2 separate regions of the Homo sapiens genome follow, and region 2 is linked to region 1. Evidence: fine-mapped expression QTL. Tissue or cell type: fibroblasts. Region 1 holds a variant in brackets; the other region holds the start of a gene. All regions are shown on one strand. Distances are between the middles of the regions. Region 1 has its middle 65 kb from the start of ERBIN. Region 2 holds the start of ERBIN (erbb2 interacting protein).

What was found. PIP is the estimated chance that this variant, and not a neighbour inherited with it, causes the effect.
Region 2: ERBIN starts here. The variant in region 1 is fine-mapped to the expression of ERBIN in fibroblasts (GTEx, PIP above 0.99).

Annotation. Positions count from the first base shown.
Region 1 is chr5:65,853,702-65,868,903 of GRCh38, reverse strand. No RefSeq gene overlaps it. Among named protein-coding and RNA genes, the nearest start is that of ERBIN, 65 kb to the left of the region's middle. The variant T/C (reference allele first, on the strand shown) is at 6,966.
Region 2 is chr5:65,919,851-65,935,052 of GRCh38, reverse strand. ERBIN (erbb2 interacting protein) reads right to left here and starts at 8,478. Exons shown (of 26, transcript NM_001253697.2): 1 at 8,247-8,478. RefSeq lists enhancers at 8,325-8,544, 8,505-9,129, 10,035-10,254, 9,754-10,378 and a silencer at 8,625-9,714.

The sequences.
Region 1 (15,202 bases):
CAGTCCCATTAAAAATAATCGTTCAAGTAGAGATTGGGGAAAAAAGAGTTGTCAGGGCAAAATTATGCTTAAAGTATGTTTGCACATTCCTTTTTTTTTTTTTTTTTTCGACAGGGTCTTACTCTGTCACCCAGGCTGGAGTGCAGTAGTGCAATCAAGGCTCACTGCAACCTCTGTCCCCCAGGCTCAAGTGATCCTCCCACCTCGGCCTCCCAAGTAGCTGGGACCACAGGCATGTGCCACCATGCCTGGCTAATTCTTGTCCTTTTTGCAAAGACCAGTGTGATGGTTAATACTGTTAACTTCATTGGATTGAAAGATACAGAGTATTGATCCTGGATTTGTCTGTGAGGGTGTTGCCAGAAGAGATTAACATTTGAGTCAGTGGGCTGGGAAAGGCAGACCCACCCTTAATCTGGCGGGCACAACCTAATCAGCTGCCAGTGAATATAAAGCAGGTAGAAAAATGTGAAAAAGAGATGGGCCTAGCCTCCGAGCCTTTATCTTTCTGCCATGCTGATCCTGCCCTCAAACATTGTACTCCAAGTTTTTCAGTTTTAGGACTTGGACTGGCTCTCCTTGCTCCTCAGCTTGCAGACAGCCTATTGTGGGACCTTGTGATCATGTAAGTTAATACTTAATAAACTCTCATATATATGATATATATATGTGTATATATATGATATATATGTATGTATATATGATATATGTGTATATATGATATATATATATAATATTTTATATATCCTATTAGTTCTGTCCCTCTAAGAGAACCCTAATACAACCGGGTTTCTCCATGTTGCCCAGGCTGGTCTTGAATGCCTGAGCTCAAGTGATCCGCTTGCCTCGGGCTTCCAAAGTGCTGGGATTACTGGCGTGAGCCATGGCTCCGGCCTGTTTGCACATTCCTTTGATCTCACACACTCTCCCAGCTTGTAGAATAAGACGACATGCCGCGAAAAACTTGAATTTGGGGGAGTCATTGTATTAGCCAGGTACTGTCCAGTTTGAGTAAAAATAAATTCGGTTTGGCAACTGCACAGTAAATAATAAACTATTCTTAACACTTAGTAACACATCATCGGTTTTCCAAAGATAAAAACGGTGTTGGGGTCAAAGAAGTATGTTGTTTCAGGGCATATGTTGCTATTAATAAAACATTCTCTCTGCAGGAAGTATACACAGACAGCTCACAAAAACAGGAAAGTCACTCAGGAACCTGGTTTAAAACTCCTGGTCTGAACTCATGAAATTGCCCTGAAGTCATAGAGAGTAGATACCACAAATTAGAAGTCAAATGAAGAGCATAGTTTTTTTCATACTTCAACTGGTACAATTCTGTACTTTCAATCCTGTGAAGGCAGATCTAGAGAGACTTATTAATAGAACTTTTTACACCAATCCCTTCATTTTGGGGATAAAGATACGGAGAACAAAGTTAGATAACATCTAGTGTTTTTGCCTGCTCAAATCCATTTCCCCTTCTGGTAACAACCCATCCCATGGAATTCTGGGGGCTGGACTCTTTCCCGACTCAAGGTCTTTTTAGTGTAGAGAGGGGTGATCTCACCTCCAGCTTCAGGGGTGGGCATGTATCAGGCACGGACAAACAGGGTCACATTAACGCACTCACTGACAGGTATGCGGGAGATCTGAATTGATTTAGTACAGAAGGAAAACTAAACCCAAGACCACACAGTTAATGCCAAAGCTAGGACTATAGCCTGAGTCTCCCACCTCTAAGACCAGTGATCTTTTCATGCTACCATGCCACAAAACATACATAAGTTAAAAAAAAGTTCTTACTAATTTAAAAGGTAGCTGTATTTCAGTGCTAATATACCAGACTGTCTCAGGTCTGCACGACTTCCTGTTTGTATGTTAGGTACCTGGAACATAAGCCCACATTTCCTTCTATGTCCTTAAAGAGAGTAATGATTTATAGCAGGGTAAAGAGGGTACAATGATCATTTACTTTATATTCAATGTTCCTCTAAGGCCACTTATAAAAATTATCTTATGCCACCAGGATACCACTATTCATTTTAGACAATTAATGATTACACTGTGACTTATAACCATTTGAAAAGGAGGCTGGGAAAAAATGGGAGCGAGTATAGTATTACATAATGCTTAGAGTGGTCCTATGGGAGTGACTGGATTATAGGTAATTTCCCCCTCATTCCTTTATTTTCCTGGTATGGGGGTAATATAATATTTCAAAAGTAAATAAGCTGATACTTTTGTAGCAATCTGATTATTCAAAGGCCAATTAACTATGCTTCAAATTATTCAACCCCTTTGCTACTCTCTCACAACTCCCTCCTGTTTCTGTTTTGGCTGTTCATTGCCTCCTTAATTCTATCTAGGAGAAAAAGTTGTGAGACTCAAACCAGACAATATTCTGCCTATTTCAGGGCTTAATTTTCATAAGAGTACCTGTGAGAAGGTGTGGCTGGATCAGGGCCAGTGACCAGGGCGCCCAGGAAGACTGTGAACACCCAGGAAAGCCGTGAGCAATAAAGAGGGACAGTTTAAGAATTATCCATATCGATTTTTAATTAACCATAGTAACATGCCCTTTTATGACCTCAGGAAAGTGGGAGTTGGCAGTACTGTACTTAAAATTATATTTGGTTGTCACACCAGACCTCAAACACAAAATGTCTAAACTGAATCCTGTATCTTTCCCTTCCTGAAACAGTTACGCACTCCATCCCCATCTCTATGCATGACTTCCATCATCCACTCAGCCAGAAATGTGGAACTTATCCCCAACTCTTCCTCACTGGCTATACTTAAAAATCATCAAGTCCCTCTTCTGTCTTCTTCCCCATTCTCATGGTTGCTACCTCATCGATTGCTATCTGGACTAATGCAATTAATAGTTTCTCAGCCACCAGCCTCCTCCTTCCTACAGTCCTTCACAATGATCTTTCAGATAAATGGCAAATCCATTTTGAGAGTGAAGGAGAGAAAGGACTCAAGGATCACTCCAAGGTTTCTAAACAAAGCAGCTGAGTGACTAATGATGCCATTATCTGTGATACGGAACAATGGAAAAAGAGGTCCTAGAAGAAGACAACAAACTCAGTTTTGGACACGTTGAGCTTGAAGTGCATGTAGTGTACACGTCTATCCTATAATAAAACTTACCAAATGATAAAGTAATGATCATTTGGTTTGGGAGTGTCTTTCTGTTCTTAGATTGTAAGTGTTTTAAAGGTACAAATCAATCTTTATTATATATTCAGCACTTTTCGCAGTGCCTGGCACAATAAATGTTTGTTAAGTTGCAATCCTTTCTAAATTAATATATGTGGGAGCTTAAATTGCTATGTATTATATGAGTTTCAGGCTAGAGGTGGTGGCTCATGCCTGTAATCCCAGCACTTTGGGAGGCTGAGCTGGGAGGATTGCTTGAGCCCAGAAGTTCAAGACCAGCCTGGGCAACATAGCAAGACTCCATCTCTAAAAAAAAAAAAAAAAAAAAAGTTAGCCCCGTGTGGTGGTGTGCACCTGTAGTCCCAGCTACTCAGGAGGCTGAGGTGGGAGTGAGGTGGGAGGATCTCTTGAGCCTGGGAGGTCTAGGCTGCAGTGAACCATGATTGTGCCACTGGACTCCAGCCTAGGCAATAGAGTGAGACCTTGTCTCAAAATTAAAATAAAATAATTTTCATTTAAAAAAGTGTAACTCATATCACAGACCGAGGGCTAATTCCCTTAATATATAAATAATTATTATAAAATAAGAAAAAATAATCGAAGAAAAATACACAAACAATATAAACAGCTTACAGGTCAGGAAATAAAAATAAATCTTTACATATGGAAAGACCTTCCTTATATTAAGGGAGATTTAAGATTTAAGGGTACAATGAGATACCATTTTCCACCTAAGACTAGCAAGAATTAAAATGTCTACAAACTCATTGTGTTGGTGAAAGTGGGGGAAAACAGGCTTTCTTATATAATTAAGGCAAAATTTTAAATGCCCAAAGCTGTTTTCATCCTACAGATATATTCTTAGATGTGCAAGTTAGCATACTATGCAGTCATTTAGTGCAGGGGTCCCAACCTCTGGGCCATGGACTGGTACGGGTCCATGGCCTGTTAGGAACCAGGCTGCACAGCAGGAAGTGAGTAGCAGGTGAGCCAGCATTACGGCCTGAGCTCCGAATTCTGTCAGATGAGAGGCAGTAATAAATTCTCATAGGAGCACGGACCCGTTTGTGAACTGCACATGTGAGGAATCTAGGTTGTGTGTTCCTTATGAGAATCTAATGCCTGATGATCTGAGGTGGAACAGTTTCATCCCAAAACCATCTCCCCAGCCCCTGACCTCTGTGGAAAAACTGTCTTCCACAAAACCAGTGCCTTGTGCCAAAAAGTTTGAGGGCCGCTGCTTTAATGGAATGAAGCAGTTCAACGTTACTAATATAGACTAATCCCAAAGATAAATTGTTTAGTGAAAGAAGTAAGGTGTAAAGGAGTTTGGATTGTGTAGTAGCTTTGGTGTAAAACACAAGACTATACATACATATACTTCTATATACAAAGTATGTTTCCGTAAGAAACTGGTAATATGGTTTCCTCTGGAGAAGAGAACTGTAGAACTGAGATGTAGATAAGAGAGAGACTTTTCACTGTACACTCTTTTGTGCCTGCTGAATTTTGTGCCATGCAAATATGTTAAGAATTTTACCAAAAGTAGAAGTATGTCTACTCTACGACCCAGCAATTCCACCCCTTGGTATATACCCAAGAGAAATGAGTGCATATGTCCACCAACAGACATGTACAAGAATGTTTGTAATAACTTTTCTCATCATACTAAAAAATCGAAAAACCCCTAAATGTCCATCAACAGGAGAATAGATATATAAATTGAAGTATATTTATTTAATGGAATACCATACAGTAATAAAAAAGAAAAAAATGATGACGCAACTGAACAGGAAAATAATGTTGAGTTACAGAAGCCAAAACAAAAGAGTAAATACTGGGTGGTTCTGTTTATTTCAAGTTTAAAAATAGGCAAAACTTATAAATGGTGATAGAAGTCAGAATAGTGGTAACTATTCTGGCAAGAGTAGGCTAGGAGTATGGGGCAAGAGGATATTGACTGGGAAGAGATAAGAGAAATTGTGGGGTTGCTGGGAGTGTTCTGTGTCTTGAGCTGGTGGTGGTTAAATGGGAATATACCTATGTTAAAAAAAAAAACTGAGTTGTACACTAAAGCTCACTAAATACACTAAATGTATTTTACTGTATGTTATACTTCAATAAAGACATTTTTAAGGCATGAAAAATACACCTTACCAATTTGAAAAAAGTAGATAAAATACTATTAAACAATTTACCTAAATATCAAGTGACTTCTCCCTTTACATTGATAAAAGTCAATGTGGCTGTGTGTGGTGACTCACACCTGTAATCCCAGCATTTTAGGAGGCTGAGGCAGGTGCATCACCTGAGGTCAGGAGTTTGAGACCAGCGTGGTCAACATGGTGAAACCCTGTCTCTATTAAAACTACAAAAAATTAACCTGGCATGGTGGCAGGCACCTGTAATCCCAGCTACTTGGGAGGCTGAGGCAGGAGAATCGCTTGAACCCGGCAGGCAGAGGTTGCAGTGAGCAGAGATCACACCATTGCACTCCAGCCTGGGCGACAAGAGCAAACCTCCATCTCAAAAAAAAAAAAAAAAAAAAAAAAAAGTCAATGCAACTTTCATACTAAGAACCAATAAAAAAAAATAGGGAAACTGCTAGGGATTTCTTTAAACTAAAGAGAGAGAAAAGTAAAGCAACTATTGATTGTAACAATAAAATTCTGATTAAACCAATTATAAAAAACAAAATGAAAGAATTATCTATTATGACCTTAAGTTCTCAAAGACTGTAACATAATGCTTCGGCCCATCAGGGGCTAAAAAAATTCTTTCGTAAATTTGTTAAACAACTTTTAGAAATGTAAGCGTATAGGAGAAAGCTTTGACTGACATTTTTTCAGGGGATGCCATAGTAACCGAGAGAGAGTTCAGTTTGTTGAAAAGTGGTAGTTAGACTTGGAAGGGACAAGGGCAATGTGGAGTAATAGGGTTTATCTGGTCCACAGAGAGGTAGAACAGTGGTGATCTTTGTAGAGAAAAGGTCAGAAGAACCAGGTAGTCAGGAAGAAGAGAGAGAGAGGCAAGAAAGAGACAAGGCTCTAGGCACCCAGAATGTTTAAAAGTGAACAAAAAAAAAGGTATGTGATACTATAAAACAAATTGCTTTAGGATACATCAGGAAAGCTCAAGAATGAGAGGAGGGAGGGGGACAGTTACCCAAAGTGAAAGCAACAAGTCCTGCTTTTTAGACTTTTTCAGTTCAGGAAGGTGCCAAAGGCAAGTATTCAGGTCAGCCCTCTGCACTGAAGGATTTCAACTTCTAGTTTATTAGGGTTTTTTCCCCCTAATAAGTTACTTCTCTGATTAAAAAGTAATAGAAGCTTATTGTAGAAAATTTGGAAAATGCAGAAGAATATTAAGGAGAAATAAAAAAATCACTCAGAGATGAACACTGTAACATTTTGGTATAGTACAATTTATTTTTCCTTCCTTCCTTCCTTCTTTTTTTTTTTTTTTTTTTCAGAGTCTTGCTTTGTCACCCAGGCTGGAGTGCAGTGGCGTGATCTCAGCTCACTGCGATCTCAACCTCTTGGGCTCAAGTGATCCTCCCATCTCAACCTCCTGAGTAGCTGGGACCACAGGTATGCACCACCATGCCTGGCTAATTTTTGTGGTTTTGGTAGAGATGGGGTTTTGTCATGTTGCCCAGGCTGGTATAGGGCAATTTCCAGCAAACAGAGAGCAGCAAAATGTCAAGTCAGTGAAAGGCTCCCTTGCCTTGGGAACACAAATGTTGTTTATTCTTGGAGATTCATCATTTTATTTTATTGGTGCATTTTTTACTAGAAGAT[T/C]CATGACGGCAGAAAATTTTGTCTGTGTTGTTCATTGCTATATCCCCAGTGACTAGCACATAAGTGGCATTCCAGGAATATTTGTTAAATTACCTTTTTTTTTTTTTTCACATTTACTTAGGAAGATTAGCTGCTATTTCTTATTTTTTCCCTTCCATAATTAAAACATTTTAAATCATTTTCATGATCCATTTCATGACTTTTCTAATTTACCAGATCAATCTAGTCATTAAGTAGATCTATCTGTTGAAGTTGGGAAAATGTCAAATGTAAACTAAAGCTTTGTGGTTTATATGAGTGTCCCCATTTTATTTCTTCTATGAGGCCTTTTCATGCACTATCCCTGAAAACTCGCAAAAACGATTCCTTCCATTCTTTATGTTAATCTATTGTTCATATAATTTATCAAAAAGAACTCGAGGCCTGGTGTGGTGGCTCATGCCTGTAATCTCAGTGCTTTGGGAGGCCGAGGCAGGAGGATCGTTTGAGGCCAGGTGTTCCTAAACCAACATATTCAGATCCTTATCTCTACCAGACCAAAAACAAAACAAAACAAAACTTAGCTGGGCATGGTGGCATGCACCTGTAGTCCTAGCTACTGAGGGAGGAGGATCTCTTGAGCCCAAGAGTTTGAGGCTGCAGTGAGCTATGATTATACCACTGCACTCTAGCTTGGGGACAGCATGAGATCCCATTTCTATTAAAAATAATAATAATAACTTGAAAATCAATTTAACATCTAGGGCATTACAGCTTATTTTTTAAAGGAAAAACAGGATTTTTTTAAAAAATTTATGTTGGGATACTATATTTTTTCCCTCCAAAGCAGGGGTGAGACCTCTTGGCTCACTGCAGCCTCCATCTCCTGGGATCAAGCAATCATCCCACCTCAGCCTCCTGAGTAGCTGGGACTATAGACACACGCCACCACACCCAGCTAATTTTTAAACTTTTTGTAGAGACAGGCTCTCCCTATGTTGCCTGGGCTGGTCTCAAACTCCTGGGCTCAAGGGATTCACCTGCTTTGGCCTCCCAAAGTTTTGGGATTACAGGCATGAGCCACTGCATCCAGCCAGGACTTACCTTTGAATAGTGAAACATGATCAAGGAGATTCCATGATGTTTAGAAGTCTATGAAGGAAGAAAGAATATTAAATATCTTGCAGTAAAATTTTTCAAGGAGGGCAGATGAAATTACTCAAGCTTGAAATAGAGCCACAACTCTGCAGTCAACAGTCTCACTGTTGGAACTAAAATAAGACCCTTGAAATCCTCCAGAATCAGAGGTAGCCAGGATCCTTCAAACACCCCAAGCCAACAAGGCCTCAGTGCCCACAACATAGTTATTTGTGGGGTGGGGGATAACAAAAGAATCACACAGTTAAGCAAAGAGGGGTTTTATTTGTTCACATAACTGGGAAGTCTGGAGGTAGACCTAAGCTAGGCATGGCTGGGTTCATATCAGGGTTCTCTCCCAGCATCTACATGATCAAATCTCAGGAGAGACTGATCGGTACTGCTTGGAGCATCTACATATTTGCTGGAGCAATAATACTAATCAGAGAATAAGTGATTTGAATTGGCAAGGCCTGGGCCACATGTCCATCCGTATGAGTAGAAAGTGGGATCAGCCTCACTCAAAATAAGTGAGGTGGATTTTCCATGAGAAAGAGGGGTTCTGTCAACACCTGGAGTAGGAAAGGGTATTAGTGACAACGTCAAGCCCTGTGCCCCTGGAAAACAGCAAGGATCAGGAAACCATCTCCCTCCAACTTTTTTGTTTTGTTTTGTTTTGTTTTGAGACAAGGTCTTGCTCTGTTGCCCAGGCTGGAGTGCAGTGGTGAGATCTTGGCTCACTGCAACCTCCGTCTCCTGGGTTCAAGTGATTCTCCTCCCCCAGTCTCCCAAGTAGCTAGGACTACAGGTGCACACCATCACGCCGGTTAATTTCTGTATTTTTAGTAAAGACGGGGTTTTGCCATGTTGGCCATCTGGTTTCAAACTCATGACCTCAAATGATCTGCCTGCCTCTGCCTCCCAAAGTGCTGGGATTACAGGCATGAGCCACTGCGCCCAGCCTCCCTCCAACCTTTGTGTTCCAGGAAATGACTTACAGCAAATAATTGCCCTTCCCCATACGACTTAGAGACTTGGAGTGACCCCCTTGTCTAACTATGACAAAGCCATATAGAGATCCTCTAATTTCCCATTCTTTGACTCATAAATGATTAGCTGACCTGTTTGTTTCCACAGGCCAATCTGGACAAAATGCCTGCTAACTGGGCTAAACTTTAGTCAGGCCTCTGTCATTCTTCCAAGTCCCTGAACTTGGCCCACCCTTAAACATTAGAGCTAGGAACAAGCCCTCCTTAATGGCCCCTACTGAGACTAGCGTACCCAGCAGGGGGAACTGTTCCCTGACGCACCGCAGGATAACCTGCTCATCCTGGTAGACCTCACCTGCTTCCTTCCAGCCTGCTTTCCTCCTCCCTGTAAAAGAAAAGCCCTTTTCTGCCTGGTCTTGGAGATGCTTGCAGATCTTACAGTTGACCATCAGAGCATTCTCTCTATTATAATAGTCCTCTTCCTCTTACTGCAATAACCCTTTTGAGTAAAGTCTCACTTTACCTCTGTCCAGATTTGCTATTTGACCCTGGCCAGAGAAAACAATAGATGTCTACCACAACACACTATTATCCAGTTGGATGGGGCTTGAGGGGATGAAAATTAGTTACACCCTCCCTCTAGCTCTCAGTTTTGAGTCAGTGGAGACATAGAAGCAGGGAATCTGGGAGCTCAAAATGTCAGTCTTAAAAAGGAAGGAAGTTCTGACACCATGCTACAACATGGATGAGCCTTGAAGACATCATGCTAAGTGAAATGAGCCAGTCACAAAAAGGACAAACACTGCATGGTTCCACTCCTATGAGGTATCTAGAGTAGTGAAAATCATAGACACAGAAAGTAGAATGGTGGTTGCCAACGGCTGGAAGGAGGGGAAAATGATGAATTGTTGATTAATGGATATAGAGTTTCAGCTTTGCAAGAGGAAAAAGTTCTGGAGACTGGTAGAGATTGGTTAATGCAAATATAATTAATACTACTGAATTGTACACTTAAAAATGGTAAGATGATAAATTTTATGTCATCTATTTTTTTAAACCACAATAAAAATTATTTTTTAAAAAACATTAGTTCACAGCTAATAAAGCTGGTTGGAGAATGTGGCATAGTCTGTGGCCAAATGGGCTTACTGATACTCACTTCCCTGAATTAAAATAAACCTCTTCTAACTTCAGTCCTTTTTGCAGGGCAGGGCTTACTCTAGGAAACTTATTGCAAGGTAAGTCAAGTCCTTAAGGTCTGGCCACTCAGAGAGAAAGAGGGGCTGAGTCACACATTTAGCAATTCTTTCCCTCAATCTTGCCAAAGAAGGTGCTTTTTCCCGAGGAGAGAGTGAGACAAGGGAAGAAGCCCAAGCATCCCAAGCTGTCACTCGTGGGGAGCAGACAGAGAGCTGAGGGGATAAGCATTCACCCCTAACCAGTGTGTTGAAAGAAAAGCTGGGTACCTGTAATCCCAGCACTTTGAGAGGCTCAGGCAGGTGGATTGCTCGAGCCTAGGAGTTTGAGACCAGCCTGGCCAACATGGTGAAACCCTGTCTCTACTGAAAATACAAAAATTAGCCAGGCATGGTGGTGCGTGCCTCTAATCCCAGCTACTTGGGAGGCTGAGGCACCAGAATTGCTTGAACCCGGGAAGCAGAAGTTGCAGTGAGCCAAGATTGTGCGACTGCACTGCAGCTTGGGCGACTGAGCAAGATTCTGTCTCAAAAAAAAAAAAAAGAAAAAAAAAAGAGGAAGGAAGAAAGAAATAAGGAAGGAAGGAAGGAAGGAAGGAAGGAAGGCAGGCAGACAGGCAGGCACATTAGGGCAAGGCTCTCATGCCTGTGATCCCAGTGCTTTGGGATGCCAAGGCAGGAGGGCTTGAGACCAGGAATCTCAGACCAGCCTGGGCAACATGGAGAGAACTCATCTCTACCAAAGCAACAAAACAAAATTAGCCGGGTGTGGTGCTGAGAGCCTATAGTCCTAGCTACTAGGGAGGCTGAGGCAGAAGGATGGCTTGAGCCCAGGAGGTCAAGGCTACAGTGAGCTATGATAGTGCCACTGCACTCTGGCCAGGTGGGTGAAAGAGCAAGCCCTGTCTCTAAATAAATAAATAAAAAGAAAGACGATATTAGAATATAAATTTGAAAATTTATAAAGATGATAAAATTTATCATCTTACCATTTTTAAGTGTACAATTCAGTAGTATGAATTATATTTGCATTAACCAATTGTATTCACAGTATCACTAGGATAACAGGATGTAAAGTGATCTTTCTTTTTTCTAAATTAAACAAATATTATTGTTATGCCTTTTAAAACATAATTCTGCTAACATCAGAAGTACCACATTTATAATAATTTGATACACACAATTTATTAAGTGGCTAAAAGGGAAAAAACAAAGAGAATTATTAATGTACAGTTCACATTTTATAATTATGCTAATTATTTTCTGGCTTTTTCTCATGTAAGGTTCATTAATATCATCAGTGAAGCTGAACAGTTTCAGAATGCTTTTAATTGACATTAATGCCAAAACAAAAGGATAATTTTCCATCGTAAACATTTATCTGATCAACATGTTTTCATTTGAAAAAGAAATACATTCCCCTCAAGCACAAAAACTTTAAGATCAGATACAAGTAGATTAGATATATTTGACTGGATGCACATTTTTAAAAATATATATAATTTAACTCACTATAGTGCTAAGGACCTTCCTAGAGATATTGGATGTGCTTCCAACATCTCTATGGAGAAGGTAGTGTAGATTTCATTTTGCTAGTTTATCAGATGAGAGTAAAAGAAGCGTATTGTGCTAAATTATGTGCTTCAGACCATACAACTAAGGAGTGAAATAGCTGCATGTAAAACTCCATTCTCTTTTCTCTGTGCTTTTCAAAGAGTGTGTGTTTAATTATAAGCTTTTCTGCTGGGCACGAAGGCTCACACCTGTAATTCCAGCCCTTTGGGAGGCTGAGGCAGGAGCATCAGCTGAGGTCAGGGGTTTGAGATCAGCCTGGCCAACATGGTAAAGTCCTGTCACTACTAAAAATACAAAAATTAGTTGAGTGTGGTGGCGTACCCCTGTAATCCCAGCTGCTTGGGAGGCTGAGACAGGAGGATGGCTTCAACCCAGGAGACAAAGGTTGCAGTGAGCCGAGATTGCACCATTGCACTCCGGCCTGGGCAACAGAGTGAGACTCTGTCTCGAGGAAAAAAAAGAGCTTTTCTCTCTCATTTAATGTAATGAAAGGTTATCTATGAAGGTTGCAGTTATTCACAATCAGATTTTAAAGAGAAAAATTATTCATATTGTGTGTAAATTATACTTCAATTAAAAAACTTTTTCAATATAAAACAAAGTCAGAGAAAACTTTTCTCTGTGGGAACTTCAGGCAAATGAATGAGTACATTCAGAGTAGGCTGCAGTATGACACTTTGGATAGCACAGGGCAAAAATATTATACTTTGCATCTTTAAAAAAGAGGTCACATAGATACTGCTATGTCAAAATTGTATATCCTCTATCAGCCCAAAGCACATTTGGCTTGAATAATTTCCACATCCTCAGAGACATTCATTCTCTAAGGAATCAATCCATTTAGGAAATTATGTCCTAGAACTTGTACTAAAAAATGAAGGGGGCTTATCTATCACACTTGTTTTGAGAGGAAAATGGTGTGCTTTAGATAAAACATTACAGTGACCAAAATACCTCCCATCTGTCAACTTTATATTCCTCTCATTCACTTTCACATCATGCACTTGGTAGGACTCATAGGAGAAAAGCAGACAAGAACCTATTTTTACTGCTGTTGAAAGCATGCCAGTTTGGCAAGGGTGTGGAGCAGTGGGCACTCTCATGCACAGTAGGAGTATAAATTGGTTCAGCCTTTCTGGAAGGTAATTTGGCAATATACAGGATGTCAACATTTTAAATAAGCATATCCTTTGGCCCAGAAATTTAATTTCTGGGAATTCATCCCACTGAACAAATTGGACAAACATGCAAAGATATACATAAAAGGCCTTCATGAAGCATTGTTTACAATAATGATAAATTAGAAATCACCTACATCTCTATCACTAGGGGACTGATTAAATACATTATGGTAGATCTGTTCAGTGGAGTATTTTGCAGTGCATTAAAACGACCACGTGGCCGGGCGTGGTGGCTCGTGCCTGTAATCCCAGCACTTTGAGAGGCTGAGGTGGGCAGATCACCTGAGGTCAGGAGTTCAAGACCAGCCTGACCAACATGGAGAAACCCCATCTCTACTAAAAATACAAAATTAGCCGGCCATGGTGGCGCATGCCTGTAATCCCAGCTACTCAGGAGGCTGAGGCAGGATAATTGCTTGAACCCGGGAGGCAGAGGTTGCAGTGAGCCAAGGTCACGCCATTGTACTCTAGCCTGCGCAACAAGAGCAAAACTCCGTCTCAAAAAAACCAAACAAACCAAAACAAAACCATCATGTACACTTGTGTTTATTGCTAAGAAAAGGTTACAAAACAGCATCTGGATTGTGAAAAGTTTTCTACATGCATAGGAAGAAGCCTGGAAGGATGCATAACATAACATGATTATCTCCGGGTTTCAGGGTTTCAAATGATTTTTACTTCTTTATTCCTTTTATGTTTGTTGAAACTGTCCCATCAGCATGTATCACTAGTTTAATCATAAAATATACGTCATAGTAGTCAGCTTGGGCTGCCATAACAAAATACCACAGATTGGGTGGCTTAAGCAACAAAAATTTATTTCTCCCATTCCTGGAGGCTGAAAAGTCCAAGATCAAGATATCAGCTGGTTTTGTTCTTGGTGAGGGCCTTCTTCCTGGCTTGCAGATGGCCTGTTTTTCACTGTGTCCTCACATGGTAGAGACAGAGAGTGAGAAAGACAGAGAGAGAGAGACAGACAGACAGACAGACAGACAGACCAAGAGCCTTGTACCTCTGCCTGTTCTGCTTTTTTTTTTTTTAGGGTTTTTTTTTTGTTTTTTTTTTTTTGAGACAGGGTCTCACTCTGTTGCCCAGGCTGGAGTACAGTGGTGCAATCATAGCTCACTGCAACCTCCAACTCCTGGGTTCAAATGAGCCTCCAGCTTCAGCCTCCTGAGTAGCTGCCACTACAGGCACACACTACCACACCTGGCTAAGTTTTATTTTTTATAGAGACAGGATCTCACTTTGTGGCTCAGGCTGGTCTTGAACTCCTGGCCTCAAGTGATCCTCTCACCTCAGCCTCTCAAAGTGTGGGATTACAGATGTGAGCTGCTGTACCCAGGCTCTGCCTCTTTTTTTTTTTTAGACAGGGTCTTGCTCTGTTGCCCAGGCTGGAGTGCAGTGGCGTGATCTCGGCTCACTGCAACCTCCATCTCCCAGTTCAAGCAATTCTCCTGCCTCAGGCTCCCGAGTAGCTGGAACTACAGGTGCCCACCACCACGCCCAGCTAGTTTTTGCATTTTTTTAATAGAGATGGAGGTTCACCATGTTGGCCAGGCTGGTCTCAAACTCCTGACCTCAAGTGATCTCCCCACCTTGGCCTCCCAAAGTGCTGGGATTACAGGCATGAGCCACTGCGCCCGGCTGCTCTGTCTCTTCTTATAAGGGCATCAGTTCTATAGGATTAGGGTCTAACCCTTATGATGTCATTTAACCTTTATCACCTTCTCATAGGCTCTATGTCTAAATATAGTCACATTGAACGTTAAGGCTTGAACATATGAATTTTGTTGATGACATGTCTTCTGGCTTAAAAAACAATTAAGACATGTATGTTAGGCCCTTCTTGCATTGCAATAGAGAAATAGAGCATGGCGGATCTCGGCTGTAATTGTAGGACTTTACGGGGCCAGGATTGCTTGAGGCCAGGCATTTGAGAACAGCCTGGGCAACATAGCAAAAACCCATCTCTACAAAAAGTTTAAAAATTATCTGGGCGTGGTGGCTCACACCTCATAGCTCACACCTACCCAGATAGTCTCAGCTACTTGGGAAGGTGAAGCAAGAGGATTGCTTGAGCCTAGGAAATCAAGTCTGCAGTGAGCTATGAGCAAGCCATTGCACGCCAGCCTGGGTGGCAGAGTGAGATCTTGTCTCGAAAGAAAGAAAAGGAAAGA
Region 2 (15,202 bases), 66 kb before region 1:
AAACAACAATGTACACAAGCCCCAGATCTTGGCTTCTAAGTATCATTTTCCACTAAAAACAACCAGGAAAAGTAGAAGATATGTTAGAACATCTAATTGTGCTAAAAAACAAGGAGTACTCAAAAAAGGAAGAGGTATCAAAAACAAAAAAGAAAATAAGCCAGGGGGTTCTCACTGGCCAATCAAGAACAATTTGAGCACCAAAATAAATAGTAATGCATTATGTCCTTGCGAAGATAAACCTAGGTACATGTAAATAAGTGAATTTAAAATATGACAAACAAAACAAAATATTTACATAGTTTCAAAGCACCTACCGCAAAATATTAGTTAATTACAAACAGGGAATGAATACCTTAAAAAGGGCAAGTCTGGCAGCCACAACTTTAATCACATAAAGTGAATACCATAATAGGACACACTGAAATTGCCTGCCACCTGATAAGACGTAATAAGAAGAATGCAGCATCACTTTTACAATAACCCTGCCAAAGATCTAATCATAAAAATCTAATCAAAGATCTAATCATGAAAAATATCACACAAATGAAAATTGAGGGGTATTCTACAGAATAACTAGGCCTGTCATCTTCAGATCTTCAAAAGTGTCAAGGCCTTGAAAAAAAAGAGAAAGAAATTATTCCAGATTGAAGGAGAATAAAGAGATGACAACAAAATGTAACACATGATTCCAAACTGGAATAGTTTGCTGTAAAACACATTATTGGGATAATTGAGGTTCAGATGTTAGTAATATATTCATGTTTACTTTCTGATTTTGATGGTAATGATGTCATTATATGCAGGAGAATATCCTTGTTTGTAGGAAATAAACATTAAAATATTTAGGGGTGACGGGCTGGGCGCGGTGGCTCACGCCTGTAGTCCCAGCACTTTGGGAGGCCAAGGCAGGCAAATCATGACATCAGGAGATCAAGACCACCCTGGCTAACACGGTGAAACCCCATCTCTACTAAAAATACAAAAAATTAGCCAGGCGTGGTGGCGGGCGTCTATAGTCTCAGCTACTTGGGAGGCTGAGGCAGGAGAACTGGCGTGAATCCAGGAGGTGGAGCTTGCAGTGAGCCAAGATCACGCCACTGCACTCCAGCCTGGGCGACAGAGCTCTCAAATAAAAAAAAATATATATTTAGGGATGACGACAGGGCATCATGTTAGCAACTTAGTCAAATGGTTCAGGAAAAAAAATGTTCAAACTTTTCCATATGTCAGTCATTGTTTCAAAAATTAAAATTTAATTTAAAAATATCTATAGCAGTGCTGAAAACCTGGGAGGGGTATACCTACAGATAAGAACAGAACGGAATTTATAAAGAATACAAAGTAGGCTGGGGTCGGGGAAATAACAAAATGCAATACACTTGAGGAACCAGACACCCAAAACAAGAAGAAAGTGGGATCTCCAAAAAAGATGAGTTTTCTTAGCAAGAAGGATTAAGAGAAGCATATCCTGAGCGGTCAGCCAGAGAGCAAAACCATAGTAAAACACTGTGTAGCTAAAGCCTCTAGTACAGCTCTATGTATGTAGGAGATGTGACACTTGGACAGTGTGATTATGAAAAAAGGAGACTGCCTCCTGAGGAACAGTAAGCACCTGTACCAAAAGGTCAAGCTACCCACATACCTTCAAAGAGAAACTCGTTAAATATTTCTCCCTTTCCTCTTCTAAGCAATCACCAAAGCCAGAAGAAGGATTCATTGGGCTGGGAACATATATTTAAATGACCAATACAGTAGAGACTAGGTCATCATATAAAACTTTGACTACCATGAAAATCTAGTATTTGAAGAAAAAACAAAAAGCATGACATACACCAAAAGCACAGTAAGATCAAATTTTCTGTAGTGTTAGTAGAATAAACAAAAGACAATGTTAAAAGAACATCTCAGAGATTAAAGGTTACATGCAGACCAAAAATAGGGCTAGAAAACCAAAATTGGGCCAGGTGCAGCGGCTCATGCCATAATCCCAGCACTTTGGGAGACCAAGGAGGGAGGACTGCTTGAGGCCAGGAGTTCAAGACCAGCCTGAACAACAGAGCAAGAACCCATCTCTACAAAAAAAAATAAAACATTAGCCGGGCATGGTGGTGCATGCCTATAGTCTCGGCTGAAGGTGAGGTGACAGGATAGCTTGAGCCCAGGAGTCCGAGGCTGCAGTGAGCCGTGAGTATGCCACTGCACTCCAGCCTGGGCAACACAGTGAGATCCTGTCTCAAAAAAATAAAAACAAAAATAACTCCTATGAAAAACTAGAATTCTTAGAAACTCTGTTCCAAAAACAAGTAACAAAATAACTGAAAACAAATGAAAATCAAGTAAGTGGGCTTAAAGATCAAGCTTCAACACTCTCCCAGAATCCAATACGAACAGACAAGAAAAAAAATTTAATTAATGAAAGTTCCATAAATCCCAACTTCCACCTAAGTTCTTGAAGTGCAGTCCATAGGCCCTGGAAGTCCACAGTCTCTGGAAGTCCCTGAGACACTTTCAAGGAACCTTCCAGGTCAAAACTGTGTTTATAATATTGAAATGTCATTTTTCCCTTTTCCATTATATTTACATTTTACACTGATGTTGCAAAAGCAATGGTTGCAACAGCTAACACCTTTACAAGAACAAAGGCAATGCCTTCAAGCTGCAATAGTACCACTACATATTCCCAGGTTTATGTCTTTTTTTTTTTTTTTTTTTGAGACGGAGTCTTGCTCTGTCGCCAGGCTGGAATGCAGTGGCGCGATCTCGGCTCACTGCAACCTCCACCTCCCGAGTTCAGGCAATTCTCCTGCCTCAGCCTCCTGAGTAGCTGGGATTACAGGCGTTTGTGACCACACCGAGCTAATTTTTTGTATTTTAGTAGAGACAGGGTTTCACTGTGTTGTCCATGGTCTTGATCTCCTGACCTTGTGACCAGCACTTTGCGCGGTGGCTCACGCCTGTAATCCCAGCACTTTGGGAGGCCGAGGCGGGCAGATCACCTGAGGTCAGGAGTTCAAGACCAGCCTGACCAACGTGGAGAAACCCTGTCTCTACAAAAAATACAAAATTAGCTGGACATGGTGGCGCATGCCTGTAATCCCAGCTACTCAGGAGGCTGAGGCAAGAGAATCGCTTAAACCCGGGAGGCAGAGGCTGCGGTGAGCCGAGACTGCACCACTGCACTCCAGTCTGGGCAACAAGAGCAAACTCCATCTCAAAAAAAAAAAAAAAAAGAAAGAAAAGAAAGAAAATCTTCCTCCCTTTTCCAACCAAATACCTGTATAAGGCTGGATTTTCTTCATATACTTTAGCCAAAAGAACATACTGTAACAGATGGAGTGAAGAAGCAGATATGAGAATCGAGCTGTTTTCTATTAAGCCAAACATAAGAGACTTGCAAAAATATAAAACATTGCCACTATTTTTGCTATTTATTTTAGAAAACAATTATATTTTTATTAAAACAATGTTACACTAACATGCAATAGCTTATTTTCAAATAAATTAATTTTTTTTAATTTCTGTTTTGAGTCAAACCAAAAAGTCTGAGAACAGCTGCCTTAGGACTATTACTATTTCTTGTAATTATACCATATTATAACAGAGTGAATCCTCCTACAGGGAAATGAAATGTACAAGGCACTTAGCCTCAAAGTAAGTTGTCCCAGATTATTTTCTAAGTTATTCAGTCATCTTTCCATTTTTCTATTGCTTCACTGTAACACCACAGGTCATAACTTCACAATGCTGTAAACGTACCTTTCTCACGCCTTCTGGGATACCAAAGAACCAAAAACAGCTCATTATGTACATAAGTAAATGGGCTCTGAATAATAATGGCCCTAAAAGTGAAGTCCCCAGACTCTGTCATACCTGTTGTGATTAAGGAGATGTCATTTTTTATTTTCTAGTTTTTCTACTACATTCAATATGCTTTTAAAGCTATAATAAATAACCTCCAGATAAGTAGAGTCTTATTAAGTGAATTTTTAGATATTCTCCTTTTCTATCGTCTTCCACAAAGTGAATTTTTAGATATTCTCCTTTTCTATCGTCTTCCACACTATCACTTAAAGCCTGGCAAGACCTTCATTCAATGGTGTCTGGAACAAAATTTGAAGTGACAAAAATAGAGTGATAGAGTACTATTGTGCTTATTTCATGAAATCAAAGAAAGATAATTTCAAAATTTTAGGGATTCTGTGTCAGAGAAGACATCTAACTTGAAAGGTAGGACAGAAGAGGAAGGTACAGAGAAGAAGGAACAGAGAAATATATCTGTATGTTTTAAGAGGCCAAAAGTATAATAAAACAAGAAGGTAGAGAGGGTTACAAAGTCTTAATACATAAGAATAAATAACAACCTGGTATTATCTTAACAGTCAATTTTAAGAACACTAAAGAGAAAAAGGAAAACTGAGAAAACAAAGTATAAAACAAACAATGGCCGGGAGCGGTGGCTCATGCCTGTAATCCCAGCACTTTGAGAGGCCGAGGTGGGCAGATCACGAGGTCAGGAGATAAAGACCATCCTGGCTAACACGGTGAAACCGCGTCTCTACTAAAAATACAAAAAAATTAGCCGGGCACAGTGGCGGGCGCCTCTAGTCCCAGCTACTCGGGAGGCTGAGGCAGGAGAATGGCGTGAACCTGGGGGAGGCGCAGCTTGCAGTGGGCCAAAATCTTGCCACTGCACTCCAGCCTGGGCGACAGAGCAAGACTCCATCTCAAAATAAACAAAGCAATATACTGATGAATATAAAGTTAAAATACCAGCATGTACACTTAGTTGAAATGCAAAGGGGATATTCAGAATTAAATGGGCTAATAAAATAAGATCAGATAAACTTTTTCCACTGCATGTTTTGAACAGTTTTTTGAGGTGATAAACATAGACTAACAGTTTGGAAAAGAGGGAAATGGCAAAATATAATTAAGAACGACCAACTGAACACAGAGAAAATAAGGCTAGGTAAATGAAGCTAACTATAAATATAGGAAGCTAAGGGAATCAGAAGAGAAAGCTGAATAGCAGCTAAGTTTCTTTTTTACAATTAGGAAACCTAAGAAGAGACAGCTAAAAAGTGAATCTGAAAAATGGGAGTTAGCAGTAGGCCGGGCTCAGTGGCTCACACCTGTAATCCCAGCACTTCGGTAGGCCAAGGTGGGCAGATCACCTGAGGTCGGGAGTTCGAGACCAGCCTGGCCAACATGGCAAAACCTGTCTCTACTAAAAATACAAAAATTAGCTAGGCATGATGATGTGCGCTTGTAATCCCAGCTACTTGGGAGGCTGAAGCAGGAGAATCGCTGGAACCCGGGAGGTGGAGGTTGTGGTGAGTCGAGATTGTGCCACTGCACTCCAGCCTAGGCAACAGAGCAAGACTCCATCTCGAAAAAAAAAAAAAAAAAAAAGAGGAAAAGACAAAGACATCTTTAGAGGTTTATAATAGAGATGTATTCCCAGAAAAAGAAAACGGAAGCAAGCATGTAACAAATTCAAGAAATGAATGAGCAAGGCAAAGAGTCAAAATGCAAGCAGCCAAGTAGGGTATGTAAGGAGAATCTGGATAAGCAGCAATTACGAAAAATAAAAAAGAAACTGCTACCCAGCATCACTAAAATTCTGCATAATCCCAAATACTCTGTAAGTACTGCCATAATCTATTTCCAAAACAAAAGCAGCTTAAAGTCTAAATCGTATTATCCGTAAGCAATTATTTCAAATAAGTAATTTTGAAATATACACCTATTTTCTGAAACTTTTAACTATTTCTTAAAGGGTATTATTTACTACTAATAGTGCAATACCAACAATGTGTAAAATAATCGATTTTTGAGATTTGCCAATGATATATGTTAATGTATCTATAGTTATCACTTCATTAAGAAACAGCATACAATAAAAATTTGGTTTCCATGTTTGTACCTCTGTAAGCTTTTTATACATAAAGTTTACAATAGTTTGATCTCAAATGGCAAGGAGACCTCGTAACAGTACTACTTGAATCAGTTGAAGTCCTGAAAATTCATGATTACCTTCAATAAACAGAGCCTTTAAGTGTGTATTTTGTGCAATATAGACTTTGGAAGTACTCTCTATTTGCCAATTTAATCTTTGAAAATCCACACCATACTAGAAGAATATCCAAATTTTGAAGCCATTTAAAAATATTTTAACGGATGACTCCTCTATTAACCTCTTTTCAAACCTTTGTCACAGTTTAAACAAAGCTTCGAAAATACTTATAGTTTCACAATAGTATAAAACCTAAAATTTAAGTTAATTCGGTGATAAACTAACAGAATTCCAAGAAAACTACGAAGTAAATTATGCCTTGTTGAGGAGAAAAAAAAGAAACACAAAGGTGAACACCTCACTTCATAAAACGTGTTGTCTGCATCGAAACATACTACTCTTCTCCTGAGAAAAAAAATCAAGAACTAAATCTAAAAATAGAGGCTTAAATAGTCATTTTCAAGTGCTACAATACTTTTTTTATACAAAATTTACTAATAAATAACCATCTTCATAAAGCGATAATTCTCTGTAAGGGACTTGCTCTATTAAGGTTTTGTTGCTTTTGAAGCCAAGTATAAGCCATATAAGGAAACTGAAGTTCAATGCCATTTATTTTGTTCACCTCTTTCAGATGCCCAAGAATAACCTCTTTTGCAGCCTAATGATACGTTCCAAAATCATAAAGTAGATGAGTTATGCACTTTAAATTCTTTGATAAAGCTAGTTTGACTTAACAAGAATTATTCCATGGTTCACAAATCTTACCAACAATGAAAAAAAAAAAGAATCTCCTGAGACCATGCCCCGGGGAGGAAAAAAAAAATCAAAACTACAGTAATAAATAAAGGACTGCCTTTGGAGATGTACTTAATGAAGCTGAAGTAGCAAAGAACAAATTGTGAAATAATTTGATCCTGATCTTTAAAACTTATTTTTTCTCTTTGAACTAAAGAAAATCAACTCTCTCCTCGGGTTTCCGGTCATTACGTGAGACAGCATAGGCAATCTAAACATCAATATATATTTAGGATATACCTACCAACAGGATTACCAAATTTATTCAATATATATTCAAAAGTACAGTATTGTATTTCACCTCCCTGTACCGCAAAAATACCGGGAAAAAAAGTAAACAGAAAAAGACTAAAACACCACTGAAAAAAACTTTGGGTTTACTGCTATCAAAACTAGTCCCCATTGGTTCAGAAGTGTTCATAGCTCTGACTGGTGGAATGTCTGCCATGCTTCATGAATCCTGCCCCCACAGATGTAGGCAGAACCTATCACTATTTATGCAGAACCGACCAAAAACATTTGGGACAACACAAAAATGTAAAGACCATACTACTCGAAAAGCACAGCTTTTTATCACAATCACTGTGATTCCCTTGAAAATCGTTTTAAGCGTTTTACTTCCCCTCCCATCGTCTGTTCTGAACTGTACAGAAGTCCTATTAAACGTCTTACAGGTTGTTAATGTTGTTTAATTATCTCTCCCTATTCTTAGTCCTTACTCCTTTTTTCTTCGTAATGGATCAGTTACAAGAAAAGCCTAGTCGATCCTTGCTTTCAATTAATTAAACAAGTTATACGGCGCTAAACGTCTGAAAAACACACACTACACACAACTAAAGAAATATATTACTCACCCTGAAAAACAACTAAGAATGGCAAGATTTTTTGGTTTCTAAAATCTAACTAAATATACTGATCAGGGTTGGAAATAAAAAAATAAAAATAAATACCTCTATATACAATTAACGCAAGCGCCAATATAATCGGTATGAGTATAAACAAACGCGGCAGCCATCTCAATAACAGCAAATCACTCACTGCAGCGACCAAACTTTCTTCCCAAACAGAAGGTGCCTGGCTGAGCAACTTAATATACACTCTATACGTTCCAGAAAGCCAAAACTTCTGGCCCCTGTGCTGAACAAAGGCAATCGTTCTTCGGATTACTAAAAACTTTTCGTCCCACCGCATTCTTACAACCTCTTCCAAAAAATTCAAAGTCCAGATGGTGGGGGGGGCAGGGGGGAGAAGGGACGCGGTGGGGTGCAGTTCGATTATTTAGCCCCTCAATTATTAACCGCTTCGATATGAGAAAAGGAGGGTTTAGGGCAACTTGGAGAAGAGTGAAAAACACTAAAGAATCATCTCTTTTCCGAGTCACAAAGTCCCATGAACTTTGTGACTCAGAGACACTTTTCGTGAAAATTACCTTTCGGCGGGACACCGTCTCAGGGCAGCTTTTTCAAGGCTTCGCTTGACATGATTTCCTTCCCTTCATCAGTCACTTTGGATCCAGCTGAATATCTCTCTCGGGTGAGAGCGGATGTGGACTGGCCTCCCACAGAAGAAGAGTAGGTGGCTTTGGTGGGGGTTGGGGTGCGGGCTGGCTTCCTGGTCTCGAGTTTTGCAGGAGTTTCCCAGCCCCAACGAGGATCTCCGCCGAAAAAAAAAAAAACAAAACTTTTCACTCGTGACACCGCCCGGAATTGCAGTGCGAAACTCACTTCCTGCCTTGGCGAGAAGCAGGATCCAGCTCCGTCCAGGGGAACCCGGAAAACCAGCTCCGCGCGCACCGGAGAGGGGGAGGGGAGGGGACGGCCGCCGGGAGCCTCGGGTTCCGGGCAACCGGCGCGCCCGGCACACCGGACGGCAGCAGCACCCGGCCGGCGGGGGCGAGGACGCTGCCCGGGCGCTCGGCGAGCCTCGGCCGCGCTAGGCCGCCACCGCTTCCTCTCCGTTGCCCCCAGAGCCGGGCGGCAGGGTTATTGTCTCGATAGCGCTTGCCGCGCCCTTCGTCCGCGACGCCGCTGCCGCCGCCACCCGGAGCCGGAGCCGAGGAGTCGGGCAGGCTCAATAGCGGCCCCCTCCCCGGGCCGTCCGTCGGGCCGTCCGTCCTTCCGTCCGTCCCTCCCCGCTTTCCCTACTCGCCCTCGAACCCTCTTCTCCTCCCTCTCCCGTTTTCCCGCCACCGTCCCTCCGCTGCCCTGCTTGTTCTCCTTCGCCAGCGGCGGTGGCTCCCCGAGACGCGCAGGGGGCGGGAGCAGGAGGCAGCTCCGTCTCCTCACGAGCTTGCGGGGCCGCGGCAGGGGCCGAGACTGCGTCCCGCGCCGCCGCGCCACATTCACTCGAGCGAGAGACGGCGAGGGGAGGGAGGACGGAGGGAGCGGAGAGAAAGGAGGAGGAATGGGGCAGGGGCGGAGGGGAGTTACTGCCTCACAGGCCGCGGCGGCAACAGCGCCACCGCCCCGGCCGCGACGGGTGAAGAGGCTGCGCGCCGCGACTCTGCGGCGGGGGCGGGGGCGGGGCGGCCTCCCGCCGGCTTCGCCCCAACCGCCAACAGCCGGGCAGGAGGCCTGCGCGGGCCAGTCAGCGCGCGGGGGCGGTGCGGGCCGACGTCGGCGGCTGGGGGCAGCGGGCCGGGGGCCGGGGGAGGGGCAGCCGGCGGCCGTGGGTTCGCGTGCAAGGCGCGCCGTGAGGCCCACTCTGGCCCAGGCCCCTCGAGGCCTGCCCGCTGCTCCCTGCCCGCTCCCCGACCCCGCACTCCCGGACTCCCGAGCCCCCCAGGGTGGGGAACGCTGGCAACGCCGACCCTGCTGTCTGCTCGCGGCCCAGCGCCCAGCCAGAGAGATAGAGAGCCCACAGGCCTCCGCCGCGCCGGCCGATGGAGTTTCTTTGTACGACAGTAATCGGTGCACAGGGGTTGTTGGAGTCCAGCCCTGATTTGAAGGCAGCAGGTATCTCTTGCAGCTGCAGCACTCCAACTTCCTCTAATGGCACGGTCAGGTCGCAGGAAACCACAGCGGCAGCGCGGTGCAGCTTCCCACGCCCGCCCTTCGAGCTTGTTCCCCAGCGGCGCAGCTCAGCCTCCTCCAAGTCTCAGCCTCATACCGGCGGGGAGACAAAGCTGGCGCTGGGAGTGGGAAAAGGGCCCGCGAAATGGCCTCAAGATCGTGCCTTTGTTAGAAGAAACATGGGTACGCTCCGATGCGACGCAGGCTTCCAACCCCAGCGGTTCGGTGGTGGTGCAGTCGTTGAATTGCGCTGGCCCTAATAATTCAGCCTGGCAGGGTTCGCGTTTATTGCGGAGAGAGACTCTTAAGCATTCTGTCAACACATATGGCAAATAGAAAGCCTCAACCATAACATTGCACAGTTTTTGCAGTTCTTGCTTTAAATATGTTCACAGAAAAGACGGCCTTGTTTTACCCAGAGAAGGAGCGTAATGCGGAGCGAACCATTCGTCACCCCCATTCTCTGCTGCACTTAACTGTGTACAGTGATGATAATTAGCCTCTGGGTCCCTGAAGTCCCTGGTTCAGTTCTTCCGTCTGTATTCTAGAGATAATTATTTATTACCAAGTTTGAATAAAGAGCTATATCCCCTACAGACCTTTTTTTTTTTTTTTTTTTTGGCTTGCCAATGGAAAGAGTTCATAAATTCCACCAAGTAATCATTTACCAAAATGAGTTGTACATTAGTTGCAAACACTTGAAATAACGCCGAAGATATTCAAGTCATTTTATTCAGGTTGGGAGCATTTTTAACTACTTGAAGAACTGCTGGAATTAATACAGATGTTAGGTTATTTAGCATACAGCAGAAGTTGAAGATTTACAGGTAGTACTGAAGTGTTCAGATATATTCAGTGCTGAATTAGAGGTAAGAGTATTCGCTGGAAGCTAGGAAATGGCAGCAGCTATGCCAGTGTTACCAAGCTGGATATCTATGTGAAAATGAATCTTAACCATTGCATAAAAAGCTAAAGTTAGCATATTGTACAAGCTATTTGTAATCATCGCTGGGAAGATTTCTTGCTCCGTTTTCAAAAACCGTTTTGCGCCTGATCAGAACTCAGTGGCATAGCTCTGAACTGAAAGGGTCACTCTCCTAAAGCATCCCAGGATGGAATATCTCCCATACTAGTGGAAAACCAGCTAGATTCTGGGATTCCAGTGTTGCTTCTAATCTCAGGTTGATTCGAGACCCCTTTAAATGTGATGCCATAGATTCGAGTAAACCTAACCCTCCTCTCTAAACTTAACTGATCAAGCCACTGCTTTAGGCTAAGACTTGCCCTGGTCCTAGCCTTTTTAAAATTTATACTCACACTCAGGACCAATCTGACAGACTACCATCTAGGCTAGAAAAGTACCTATAATCAAAAACCCTCCAACTCACCTGAAATTCTGCCATTAGAGTTTTATCCCTTTAAGTAGTTTTTTTCTCTAGCACAAAACCATAATCCTGGGAAAAGTAATATTTTAATCCTTATTAGTCATTTATACCTAATTCATCAGATTGTTTCCCCAAAGCAGCTTTTGTTGGAAGGGAAAAATAGAGATAACTAGAGATAACATATGCTGAGGCTGAGTTGATAGGAGACGGAAATATAGTCTCATTCCTTGGAGCGTTATATAGAGAGTAGAGGATTACAGGCAATAAAAGGACCCTTTTGATGGCTAAATAAGTCCTGCTTACTCATACTGTAAGAATGAGCCACCTAATACACTGGCCTTAAGAGGATGGAATCTGGCCGGTTGCAGTGGCTCGCACCTGTAATCCCAGCACTTTGGAGGCTGAGGCGGGAGGATTGCTTGAGCCTAGGGGTTCAAGATCAGCCTGGACAACATGGTGAGACCTTGTCTCTACAAAACCAAGAAAGGAGGATGGAATCCAGGATACACTTGTCAATACAGTTGACCCTTGAATAATATGGAATTTAGGGGCACCAACCAACTATGTGAGCATATAACATTTGACTCTCCCAAAACTGAACAACTACTAATAAGCCTACTACTGACCAGAAGCCTGATAACATAAAACAGTTGATTAACACATTGCTTGTATCTTATATGTATTATGTACTGTCTTCCTACAGTAAGTAGAGAAATAAATGTTATTAAGAAAATCATAAGGAAGAGAAACTACATTCACAGTAATGTACTATGTCCATACCATAAGTTTACATTGTCTGTTTACAAGATGAATTGTCTGTCTGAAATACCAGGCAACCTCAGCTGCAGGCCTCAGTCTATGGTACATATCAAGCAGTTCAACTTTTTCTTGTAATGTCATGACTTTGCTTCATGGGAACACTTCCAGCATCACCAGTGGTGCTTCGTATGGATGCCATAGTGTTATTAAAGTTTTGCAGTATTGCACTAAACATGATGGAAAATACGTGAGAACCATGAGAGAGAACTTTTTACTGCAATACGCAATTTACTGGAGAGATGAACTGCTCACTCAGAGATGATTAGCATTACACAGCTTAAAGCGAATACTGGCAACACTTAAGCTCGCTGCAATTGCACCAAGCAGTGGCTATGAAATTATTACAGTAGTACAGTTTGCATGACAGTTAATTTTATGCAGTTATGATTTAATACTGTAGCTTTACATTTGTTTACATTTCTCCCCACTACAAATAGCACCATGTTTGGTCTGTAAGTGTGTGCCTACATTTTGATAAATTTTAACTTTTTATGATAGGTTTGTTTATATTTTATGGTAGTAAATGATAAAAATAGACTAGTGTCTACACATATTTTATGCATTCATGACATATATAAAAATTTTCAGTATTTCTAGGCTACACAGTTTGCAAGTTTTTCAAATTGTTGCAAATCTTCAAAAAAAAGTCCAATATATTTATTGAAAAAAAATTGCATTGACCAATGCAGTCAACCCTGCGTGGTCAAAGGTCAACTGTAGTTACCTATTTTGTCAAATATTTCCTTAATAATCTGTTTAAAAAGTATTTTCTCTGGAATTCTGCATCTGTGTGCATACAGAAGGGTGAAATGGCAGGTATATGATCAGAGTGTTCAGCAATCACAAACAACAATTCATCTTTGTTATTAATCACTGAGTATTTAATTTTGTTTCATATAAGCAGCACACACAGAGCCAAATCTTCCATTTATTCTACAAGGTACTCTCATTCTATGCTTTACAGATTAGTTTCCTTTGAAAATCCTCCCGCAGGACGTTACACTAAGATGGACTTAACTTTTCAGTTATGATTAAAGAAGAACTAAAACCCCACCTTAAACAAGGCTGCCTGTGAGTCTGCAACAATTAACTGAATTCCAAGACCACCTTAGAGAGTAAGTTAACTAATGTTTATTGATAGTATAGCTTCAAGTTCCCTGTTGTGATTCTCTGAATGATTCTCTGTGAAAGGCAGAAAATCTTTTCTTTGGGATTCCCCTTCCCAATGGCTGGGCTCAGGAAAGGAATTACTGTCTGCTAGAGATAAGCTATTTCAACTGAAGGAAAGCTTAGGGCCTTAAGCATTCCAAGGAAAGTACACAGCATCCATCGGGGGGAAAAACTGCTCTAAGGGAGAGCTCATCCACTTTTAAAAAGGATACCCCTGTCACTTCCCCATACCAGCCAAGCACCTGCACAGGAGCATTGAGGAGACAAAAATAGAGGGCAAGGACAAGTTTGGGATGATAATTCTTCTTTTCTCCTTTACCAGACCCCTAGTAAAGAACTGGTTACCTAAAACCAGTTTTTAGTAGAGTAGTGTTTGGGAAAAGTGAATCTTCAGGCTAGAATAGGGTTAGATTTGAATGAAGTCTAGAAACATTGGTTCAATTAGATCAAAATGCACTATAACATGTATTTTTAATAGGGATTTGACTTCCCCCTTTTTACTTCCATCTTAGACTCTTGATAGAGAGGCCAGGAGGTTAGGGTGGCAAGTATGCAGGAAAGAAGTTCTTTGGCTCAAAAGAGGCTGTACATGCAAGAACCAATATTATGGATTCTGTAATACTTTGAGAATGGAATCACCTCTCCCATAACATGTTTCGACATTTCAAGCATATTTTTTAAAATATTTTATGCATCGCATGGAAAGTCTGCCTCTATTTGTGAAAAGCTTTTGGAAAACTGATTTTTTTTCCTCTTGTATATGCTTAATAATCTTTTTTTCTATGCTATATATTTTGTAAACTATCAAAGCTGAATTTCTTTCAGATGTCTTATGAAGTTTTTAAATATGGGGAGAGAAATAAATAATGCATTATGATTATTTGTGTGGCTTCTGAAACAAGACTGCTTGAATTAGAAACTTGGCTACTTGAGTGACCTTGAGCAAGTTCCTGAACACCTATAAACATATACTTGAGCATCCTCTTCTCTAGAAAGGAGATTATAATACTGCCTTACAGATTATTAGGAAAACTAAATGGGACAATGCTCATAAAGTATTTAACGCAGTATCACAGTGCTTGGCAGACTCAAAAGTATTAGCTATTACTAGTAGTGCACTCTTTTTTTAGAGACAAGGGTCTCACTATGTTGCTCCAAGCTGAACTACAGTGGCTCTTCACAGGCACAGTCATAGCACACTGTGGCCTAGAACCCCTGGGCTCCAGCGATTGTGCCACCTCAGCTTCCTGAGTTACTGGGACTAGTGTACTACTGGACCAATCGTAGTAAAGGCACCAATAATATGTACTATGCTTCCACTATTTCCATTATTTCTAAGGTGACCATATAGTCTATCATCCAAAGTAGGATACTTTGAGAGTGAACAAAGACATTATTAATAATTACACAGGGGTGGGGCTCAGTGACTCATGCCTGTAATCCCAGCTCTTTTGGAGGCCAAGGTGAGCAGACCGCTTGAATCCAGGAGTTCAAGACCAGCCTGGGCAACATAGTGAAACCACATATCTTCAAAAAAATGCAAAAATTAGCTGGGTATAGGGTGGGTGCCTGTAGTCCCAACTACTTGGGAGGCTGAGGTGGGAGGATCACTTGAGCCCAGAAGACAGAGGTTGCAATGAGCTGAGATCGTGCCACTGCACTCCAGCCTGGGTGATAGAGTGAGATCCTATCTCAAAATAATAATAACAATAAATAATAATTACACAGGGACAGCAAATGTAAAACTAAGACTGTCCTGGATCAACTGAGGCAAATGATCAAACTAATAATTTTCAACTTTGTGCCTTCTTCTGATCCACTTCTCCTCTCCAGTCCTCCCTAGTATGAATCATAATCTATTTCTATCATATTACAATATGCATACCTCTTTCCAAATCAGAGCAGTATTAAATCAACAAAAGAAGTTTATTTAGACTTCTACTTAGACTTCTGTTAGACTGCTTATTGCCCTTCAATGCATGTTTTCACTTAATACTATC